2 separate regions of the Homo sapiens genome follow, and region 2 is linked to region 1. Evidence: fine-mapped expression QTL. A gene starts in region 1. The other region holds a variant in brackets. All regions are shown on one strand. Distances are from middle to middle. Region 1 holds the start of TMEM98 (transmembrane protein 98). Region 2 has its middle 26 kb from the start of SPACA3.

Region 1 (5,372 bases):
CTCTGGATAATAGTGGCCATTTTTTTATTGCCTTCTTCCAAACTTATGGAATCACTTCCTTTGTAGTAATTAGCAGAATGTTTCAATTCATCTCCATAATGAACATTCCTGACAGCATAAGTATCCACCCCCTGAAGTTCCTGTTAAATCTTTTAACCATATTCATTTCCTTTCACATAGAGACCATCAAGCTTCAGATGATCATGTGACAAAGTTTCCAGTCAGTTCCAAGTGAAGACACCACCCCTGGCCATCAGGATGCCACACTGTCTCCACTAGACAGAGTAGGGCAAGAGTTCCATGATCTCCAGTAGGTAGGAACTACGCCCCAAGTTGGCATAAAGCAGTTACAGTTCCTCTGCATCCCATAAAGATTTATGGGGGTCATGTCTCTCAGGAGAGAGATGAGGCAGGAGAATAGGGTCTGGAGGCAGGAAACCTAAGGGTTCACCTGACTTCCTAGAACTAAATCAAAAGGAAAACCCCAACTTTCCGCACCTAAGTAACAAACGGACCAGAGACTACTCCCTTTGCAACCCCCACTCCCCACTTTCTGCTTGGCAGATGGAAAATCTTTTGAAAGTACCTCTGATTGCCTTTCCGCAACCAATCCTGCGTTTGCATAGAAGTGTAACTTTGTAACTTCACTTCAGCCTCTGATTGGTTGTGGAAAGCAACCAGTCAGACTGATTGCGGCCAAATATTCTTTTGCATAGGAGTGTAACTTTGTAACTTCACTTTAGCCTCTGATTGGTTGTGGAAAGTAACCGATCAGACTGATTGCGGGCCAAATCTTCTTTTGCATAGGAGTGCAACCTTTGTAACTTCACTTCAGCCTCTGATTGGTTGCTTTCCACAACCAATCAGACTAATTGTGGCACCACTTCATTTACATGGGGTGAACGCCAAGTGGCCAATGGGAAACCTCTAGGAGGTATTTGGACCCCAGAAGATTCTACAGCAGGGGCTCTTGAGCCCATATGCAGGGGCCTGCTCCCACCTTGTGGAATGCACTTTTGTTTTCAATAAATCTCTGCTTTTGTTGCTTCATTCTTTCTTTACTTGCTTTGCTTGTGCCTTTTGTCTAATTCTTTGTTCAAAATGACAAGAACAGGCCGGGTGCGGTGGCTCATGCCTATAATCCCAGCACTTTGGGAAGCTGAGGTGGGTGGATCACCTGAGGTCAGGAGTTCCAGACCAGCCCGGCCAACGTGGCGAAACCCCGTCTCTACTAAAAATAACAAAAAAAATTAGTGGGACGTGGTGGCGCACACCTGTAATCCCAGCTACTTGGGGGGCTGAGGCAGGAGAATCGCTTGAACCCAGGAGGCAGAGGTTGCAGTGAGCTGAGATCGTGCCATTGCACTCCAGCCTGGGCAACAGAGCCAGACTCTGTTTCAAAAAATAAATAAATAAATAAATAAATAAATAAATAAAGGCAAGAACCTGGACACCCTCCACCCGTAAACAGCCAAGACTGTGCCACAGCACTCCAGCCTGGGCGACTGACTGAGACTCTGTCTCAAAAAAATTAAAATAAAACAACAAAAGTATGAACCAAAAAAACCACCTCTGTGGGCTGGATGTGGCCTTGGGGGTACCAGTTTGCAGACCCTGTGTCAAGCGGCCTAGGACCCAATCTGTATCCTTTGTTAACTGTCACCGATACTGACCTCAGACCTGGACCACTGGGATCCTGCCCTGAACCCCGTGCTTTAGTTGGCCCACTCCAGCTGGAGCGTATGTTCCCTTCTAGATCATGCTCCTGGTACCCTGGACTCCGGAAATCCCTGTGTAAACAGCCCTGAGCCTGCTTCCAAGGTCTGACTTCCATCCACCCAGGGCAGCCTGCCCTGCCTGGCCTGAGTATCGTTAGAATGAAGGATGGCAGGGTAGGGGGTGTGTGTTTGCCTGAACCAGTAGACCCCCTTCAGTATGTATGGGATGGAGTCGTGTGGGAATAGAAGCAGCAAGACTACTAGCAAGGGCTCTGCATTTGTACTCTTGCCCCTGGCTAGGCAGTCGCCAGGGGTGGGCCTGCTTCTCACTGACCCGTGGGTCAGGCTGTAAATAAGAGCGACCCTCGATTCACTCTTTACCCTGGGCCAGGCAGTCCGATGCATCCTGCATCCCATCATTCCTAATACCAACTCTGAGGATGCTGACAAGCAGCAGCCCCGTTTTACAGACCGAGGCACAAAGGCTGAACTAAGTTGTCCATAGCTAGTGAGTGGCAGAGGCAGGGTTTCAATGGGACAGTCCGTGGCGGAGCACACTGGCTCCGCCGCCAGCCCCCCTGCGGTACCCATCCGCGCTCGCCGCCTGGGACCGCCAGCCCGGGGCGGGGCGCAGGCAGGGACCCTCCGCTCCCCTCTCCGTCTGCCGCCCGGACGGGCCACCGCGGGGGCGCGAGGAAGGGGTGTTGGGTCGCCAGGGCCCGCCTCCCAGCTGCCCCGGCCGCCGGGGGGCCTGGCGGTGACGGCGGCGCCTGGCGGCGGGGATTTGGCGCGGGCCGGGGGCCGGGGGCCGGGGCGCGGGGGCGCGAGGCTGGATTCCTAGGGCCGCGGCGCTTCCCGGCATGCTCCGCTGCAGGCCCGCGCCCGCGCCCGGACTTTGCCATCGGCGGGGCAGTCGCGGGATGCGCCCGGGAGCCACAGCCTGAGGTGGGTGAGCCCCGCCGGGCCGGGCGGGCCGCGGCGAGTCGGGGAAGGGGACGCGGGGGCGCGGGGCCTGGCCCGGCTGCCGGGGAGAGGGGAGGCGGGTGCCGCAGCTTTGTTCTTGCCGCGGGGCCGCGCGCCCGAAGTTGGGGAAAGGAGTAGGAGCCGCGCCCCGGAGCGCTCCGGGGCCCGTGCGGCGCGTCCCGGGCGGGCTGGGGGTCCCTCCCTCCCGGGGACAGAGTGGGCGTCCTGGGTGGACGAGCACGGGGAAGCGGGTAGGGTCTTGGGTCTGTTCTGTCCTTGTGGTTCTGGAACCGGAGGGGAAGGGGGAAAGTAAGGGAGAGAGAAAGAGACGGAGAAAAACAGGAAAACTTACTCTTCAGTACGCAGGGAAGAATAGAGAAAGAAAAACACAAAGAAACGCCACGCAGACTGCAGAGAAGGACCACGAACACACGCTCCGAGAAACACACTCAGCTCACACGCACTGAGAAGCACACTTAAGATAAACACTCAGGTCACACACACAAGCACACTAAGAAACATTCAGTTCACACACACTCAGAAACACACGCACTCAGAAGCACACAAGATAAACACTCAGCTCACACACAGAAGCACACTCAGAAACATTCAGTTCACACACACTCAGAAACACACGCACTCAGAGGCACACAAGATAAACACTCAGCTCACACACAGAAGCACACTCAAACATTCAGTTCACACACACTCAGAAACACACTCCGAGAAACAGTTCACACTCGCTCAGAAGCACACTCAGCTCACACACACAAGCACACTCGGAGAAACATTCAGCTCACACACACTCAGAAACATACTCTGAGAAACACAATCAGCTCACACCCACTCAAGCACACTCAAGATAAACAGCTCACACAAGCACATTCAGAAAACACTCAGAAACATAGCTAACACTCAGAAACACACTCTGAGAAACACAGCTCACACACTCAGAAGCACACTCTGAGAAACAGCTCACACACACAGAAACAGAAAAACAGCTCACGCACACTAACACAAACACACACGGAGAAACACACTTAGAAGCACACTCAGCTCACACACACCCAGAGAAACACGATCAGAGAAACACTCAGAACGCACAGGAAGAGAGAGGAAACCAAGTGGGTGGTCTTGGAGGCCTGGGGACCGGGGGAGGGGAAGGAGAGACACTGAGAAGCGGGAGACGGGAGCAGCAGAGGGAAAGATGCCTGGAAAGAGAAACAGAGATAAAGGCAGACATAAGAGGAGGCAGAAAACACAAAGGCCAAAAGGAGGTGGTTAAAAGGACAGTAAAGAGAAACACACACGTAGAGAAACAGAGGCGGACCCTGAGAATTACCCCCCTCCCCCACCTACCTCTCACAAAATCAGCGACACACACAGAAGAGGCAGATGCCAGCCTTCTCCTTCTTGTGGTCCAGTGAGCTCGAGATGGGAGAGCAGCTCTGTGAGCCCTTTGAGAAAGGCTTCCTTGGCACTTTAAGCCAGGCATGTCCCAACCTTGTCTACCTGGCAAACTCCTGCTCATCCTTCAAAACCCAGCTCTAGCCTCACCACTCCTGTGAAAGTGTCAGTTCCCAGAAAGTGTCATGCAAGCACAGTTACTCTCTTTTCTGTGTTCTTCTGCAGGAAGCACAGGCACATGGAGTTGAAGTGGTTTGTCACCTGTCTGCCTCTCCCACCAACTCCTTAAGATCAGGGTCTCTGTCCTATCTATCTCCAATCTCCAGTGCATGATGCATAGTAGATGATCAATAAATACTTAGTGAATGGTGACCGAGAGCGTTTGGACCCTCCGAGACATGGAGGATAGAATTAAGTGCAAATAGAGGAAAAGCACCCTCCTGGTATTCTAAGGACTCCTAAGTCAGAGTGTCTTTTTTTCACGTGGGGAAATTAAAGCCCAGAGAGGGGAGAATGCTTGCACAAAGAGAGACAAGCAGGAGGCCTACAATGAAATAACAGTGAATATGTACTTCTGTGAGATGCCCTTGTTCTTCTGGCTTATGAGTTTAAAATAGGTGTGAAAGACCCCGTTCTTCAGTTCCTCTCTCCAGAGGCAGCTACTGTTATCAAGTTACATTTTATGTGTGTTTGTGCCTATCGATGTGTTCATACTAAAAAAATTCTGTGCACTAGTATATACAAATGCACGGACTTCTTTCATTCTTCTTTTGTACACAAATAAAAGAATTCTATGAGAAAAAGAAATAGATGTGAAACAGTCTCCTGAGTGAAAACTGGCAAGAGGCAATGGACACTTTAATGCCAGTTCTAAGTTTCCAACACTGAAACTGGCAATTAGAACTCTTTCCAGAACCTTTACAGTCTTCTTTCTTCCTTAGAAAGGAAAAGTAGAGTGAATGTCCATCTCAGTGTAAGTGGATGGCTTTCCATCTCCTGACTGCATATTGGAAAAATTCTGTAACCTCCCTGAACCTCAGTTTCCTCAACTGTAAAATGGGATTACTAATATGTCCACTTCATAAGATTGTTGTTGGAAAAGTTAACAAAGAACCTGGTGCAGAGTAGATCCTCAGTAAATACAGTTTCATCTTTCCTCTCTTTAATGGGTGTTCTTTTGTGCATGTTTTTATGGCTGCGAAAACAACTGCTAGTTAAAATGTTTCCTTTTGTCTAGGGTTTAAAAAGCTATTTTAAGGCCGGGCTCGGTGTCTCACGCGTGTA
Region 2 (5,372 bases), 38 kb after region 1:
ACTGACAATTAGGTCACTCAATAACAAATGGCAAAGGAAGGGTTTGAGCTCAGCTCAGACTTGGCATCAAGGCTCTGTAATCTTCCACTTTGTAGTGACTGGAGCTGTTGAAATGATTATTCCAGTGTAATCTTTTTTTTTTTTTGGACAGAAATATTTCTATTAAGGATGGGTCAGAGGCCTAAAAGCAGGTCTGTCTATCTCCCTGCCCAAGTTCTTTCCACTTCACTAGGCTGCCTGTGAAGCCTGAGATCCATCACCGCCTCTTGGAAAGTTGTGACATCATGTAATTCTCTTGGCTTGAAGGCCACTCTGTCCCACTGGCTGTTGAATGAAGATGCTTGTCAGTGAATTACAATTTTCTTTAACATTTTTTCCATGCTAACCCATTATGATGGTTTTTTAAGGAAGACAAATGTTGATTAAGCATGTACTATGTGTAAGGCAATTTCACACACATTATTCCCTTTTTCTCCTCATGCCAATATAGGAATGGTGCAGTAGGAATAATTATTCCCATTTTACAGTTGAAGAAATGGAGGTGACAATACACCCATTTTAGCTTATGGAGACTCAAAATACCATATACAAAATCAGCAGGTGGGTGAGTAGGGGGCACAGCTAGAGGATGATGGCATTAGGAGGGGCCACATGGATCATCAATGTGAGAAAACATTTTAAATGATCCATTTTCAAGGCATGATAAATCTAAGTACTGGCAGCCAGGCTGCAAACGTAACAAACCACATGTCTCATGCACCTAGAAGGTCACCATAAGTGAATAGAATGTAGAAGAGGGGTCAGCCCATAAAAGGGAAGAAAGTTTTGTTATTGGGAAATTGAAACTTAAGCAGGGGAGGAGACCAGGGCATAACCTTAGAAGGGAGATAATGAAACTTAGGCGATGTCTAGGAAGATTGTAACCCCATAGTACTCAACCAATGAGGAACTGGGGGGAGGATTTGTGTGCTAGGAGATAAATTACCTGTTGTAACTGCCCTGGGTGTGCCTGCCTACCAGACACCTGATCTTGCAAGTCCACCATTAAAAGTCTCGCTTCCGCTGTTCTTCGTGTCTCTGAGTCCATTCTTCGGGTTTGGATGGGTGAATGTATGTTTCTCACAAACCTGGAGGCCCATCTGGGATCTCTGTGCCTGCGTGGAGTAAGACTCTGGGTGAGAGGGGAGATGTGTCCCACCTGATTTAGGTGGCCTGCTCTGTCCGGGCGCCCCGGCTCCCTGCAGAAGCCATAGACAAACTCGAGACTGTTACTCAGGAGGCAGTGGAGGTGACAGAGGGAGAAAAGCAGGCACTGTGGCAACCAGGCAAACTTGTGCATGAGCCAAGGTAGAAAATTGGACTATAAGTACTGCCTTGGTGGTTGGGCATTTTCGGAGGTCAAGTGTGTGTGACTGAGAGGTATCTTAGATACGAAGCGAGTGCAGAGTCCCAATCCGCAGTTCCATTCTCCTGCAAGGGAAATGGCCGGAGATGGATGAAGTGATTTTCGGGGTGTGCAAGAAACCTCCAATAGAGGGGGGTTATGTACACAAGGAAACTCAGACACAGAGACTGACCAAAAATGGGAAACAGAAATTCTAGGCCAAGGGGACAAAGGAAAGAGGGAATCAAAGACTCTCTCTGACATTCCCTGGATAGTCTTTTGGGGAGAGTGCTGCAGGTTTGGAGGGACAACTCTCGAACCAGGGACAAGGAAAAGCAAAAGATGAAAAAGTATTGCTGTTTTATCTGTCCCAAGGACCCCATTTGTAAGCCTTCAGTCTTTTGGCCTAACTTTGGATCAGACGAGGACTGGGTTTGCCAAGTTTTAATTCTCTATGTGAATGATAAAACCCCATACTGACGAGAAGAGATAGGTTACACTCTCTGATGGATCATGGAATTAGCCCCCATGTTCCCCCTCAAAGAAGAGAAAGAGCCTAGTAAAAAGTCCTCACCCAGGGAAAAGCCCTGGGACCCCCTACCATGCTTGCCCCTTCCATACGTCTCAAAAAATAGGGGACAGGAAGATCAAGGGGCAGGAGGAAGGTTAGAGGAAGAAAGACCTGGAGACCATGGGGGAGCTGAACCAACCTCTCCTTTAAATCTTTATCCAAATTTAAGTAAAGAATTAGAACAGTGTAAGAGGCTATGTGTGTCTCTGCATGTGAGATGGGTCTCCTGAATACAGCACACTGATGGGTCTTGACTCTTTATCCAATTTGCCAGTCTGTGTCTCTTAATTGGAGCATTTAGCCCAATTACATTTAAGGTTAATATTGTTATGTGTGAATTTGATCCTGTCGTTATGATGTTAGCTGGTTATTTCGCTC[A/G]TTAGTTGATGCAGTTTCTTCCTAGCATCCATGGTCTTTACAATTTGGCATGTTTTTGCAGTGGCTGGTACTGGTTGTTCCTTTCCATGTTTAGTGCTTCCTTCAGGAGCTCTTGTAAGGTAGGCCTGGTGGTGACAAAATCTCTCATAGGCTCAAAATAAAGGGTTGGAGGAAGATCTACCAAGCAAATGGAAAACAAACAAAAAAAAAAGAAGCAGGGGTTGCAATCCTAGTCTCTGATAAAACAGGCTTTAAACCAACAAAGATCAAAAGAGACAAAGAAGGCCATTACATAATGGTAAAGGGATCAATTCAACAAGAAGAGCTAACTATCCTAAATATATATGCACCCAATACAGGAGCACCCAGATTCATAAAGCAAGTCCTTAGAGACTTACAAAGAGACTTAGACTCCCACACAATAATAATGGGAGACTTTAACACCCCACTGTCAACATTAGACAGATCAATGAGACAGAACGTTAACAAGGATATCCAGGAATTGAACTCAGCTCTGCACCAAGTGGACTTAATAGACATCTACAGAACTCTCCACCCCAAATCAGCAGAATATACATTCTTCTCAGCACCATCTCGCACTTATTCCAAAATTGACCACATAGTTGGAAGTAAAGCACTCCTCAGCAAATGTAAAAGAACAGAAATTATAACAAACTGTCTCTCAGAACACAGTGCAATCAAACTAGAACTCAGGATTAAGAAACTCACTCAAAACCACTCAACTACATGGAAACTGAACAACCTGCTCCTGAATGACTACTGGGTACATAACGAAATGACGGCAGAAATAAAGATGTTCTTTGAAACCAATGACAACAAAGACACAACATACCAGAATCTCTGGGACACATTTAAAGCAGTGTGTAGAGGGAAATTTATTGCACTAAATGCCCACAAGAGAAAGCAGGAAAGATCTAAAATTGATACCCTAACATCACAATTAAAAGAACTAGAGAAGCAAGAGCAAACACATTCAAAAGCTAGCAGAAGGCAAGAAATAACTAAGATCAGAGCAGAACTGAAGGAGATAGAGACACAAAAAACCTTTCAAAAAATCAATGAATCCAGGAGCTGGTTTTTTGAAAAGATCAACAAAATTGATAGACTGCTAGCAAGACTAATAAAGAAGAAAAGAGAGAAGAATCAAATAGACACAGTAAAAAAATGATAAAGGGGATATCACCACTGATCCCGCAGAAATACAAACTACCATCAGAGAATACTATAAACACCTCTATGCAAATAAACTTGAAAATCTAGAAGAAATGGATAAATTCCTCGACACATATACCCTCCCAAGACTAAACCAGGAAGAAGTTGAATCCCTGAATAGACCAATAACAGGCTCTGAAATTGAGGCAATAATGAATAGCCTACCAATGAAAAAAAGTCCAAGACCAGATGGATTCACAGCCAAATTCTACCAGAGGTACAAAGAGGAGCTGGTACCATTCCTTCTGAAACTATTCCAATCAATAGAAAAACAGGGAATCCTCCCTAACTCATTTTATGAGGCCGGCATCATCCTGATAGCAAAGCCTGGCAGAGACACAACAAAAAAAGAGAATTTTAGACCAATATCCCTGATGAACATCGATGCAAAAATCCTCAATAAAATACTGGCAAACTGAATCCAGCAGCACATCAAAAAGCTTATCCACCATGATCAAGTGGGCTTCATCCCTGGGATGCAAGGCTGGTTCAACATATGCAAATCAATAAATGTAATCCATCATATAAACAGAACCAAAGACAAAAACCATATGATTATCTCAATAGATGCAGAAAAGGCCTTTGACAAAATTCAACAGCGCTTCATGCTAAAAACTCTCAATAAACTCGGTATTGATGGGACGTATCTCAAAATAATAAGAACTATTTATGACAAACCCACAGCTAATATCATACTGAATGGGCAAAAACTGGAAGCATTCCCTTTGAAAACTGGCACAAGACAGGGATGCCCTCTCTCACCACTCCGATTCAACATAGTGTTGGAAGTTCTGGTCAGGGCAATCAGGCAGGAGAAAGAAATAAAGGGTATTCAATTAGGAAAAGAGGAAGTCAAATTGTCCCTGTTTGCAGATGACATGATTGTATATTTAGAAAACCCCATCGTCTCAGCCCAAAATCTCCTCAAGCTGATAAGCAATTTCAGCAAAGTCTCAGGATACAAAATCAATGTGCAAAAATCACAAGCATTCCTATACACCAATAAGAGACAAACAGAGAGCCAAATCATGAGTGAACTCCCATTCACAATTGCTTCAAAGAGAATAAAATACCTAGGAATCCAACTTACAAGGGATGAGAAGGATCTCTTCAAGGAGAGCTACAAACCACTGCTCAATGAAATAAAAGAGGACAAAAACAAATGGAAGAACATTCCATGCTCATGGATAGGAAGAATCAATATCATGAAAATGGCCATACTGCCCAAGGTAATTTATAGATTCAATGCCATCCCCATCAAGCTTCCAAGGACTTTCTTCAGAGAATTGGAAAAAAACTGCTTTAAAGTTCATATGGAACCAAAAAAGAGCCTGCATTGCCAAGACAATCCTAAGCCAAAAGAACAAAGCTGGAGGCATCATGCTACCTGACTTCAAACTATACCACAAGGCTACAGTAACCAAAACAGCATGGTACTGGTACCAAAACAGAGATATAGACCAACGGAACAGAGCAGAGCCCTCAGAAATAATACCACACATCTACAACCATCTGATCTTTGACAAACCTGACAAAAACAAGAAATGGGGAAAGGATTCCCTATTTAATAAATGGTGCTGGGAAAACTGGCTAGCCATACGTAGAAAGCTGAAACTGGATCCCTTCCTTACACCTTATACAAAAATTAATTCAAAATGGATTAAAGACTTAAGTGTTAGACCTGAAACCATAAAAACCCTAGAAGAAAACTTAGGCAATACCATTCAGGACATAGGGATGGGCAAGGACTTCATAACTAAAACACCAAAAGCAATGGCAACAAAAGCCAAAATAGACAAATGGGAT

The links. PIP is the estimated chance that this variant, and not a neighbour inherited with it, causes the effect. A credible set is the group of variants that fine-mapping cannot tell apart.
Region 2: its variant is the best candidate, but not a certain one, in a credible set for the expression of TMEM98 in hippocampus (GTEx, PIP 0.82).

What each region holds. Positions count from the first base shown.
Region 1 is chr17:32,925,575-32,930,946 of GRCh38, forward strand. TMEM98 (transmembrane protein 98) reads left to right here and starts at 2,579. Exons shown (of 8, transcript NM_015544.3): 1 at 2,579-2,663.
Region 2 is chr17:32,963,387-32,968,758 of GRCh38, forward strand. No RefSeq gene overlaps it. Among named protein-coding and RNA genes, the nearest start is that of SPACA3, 26 kb to the right of the region's middle. The variant A/G (reference allele first, on the strand shown) is at 2,334.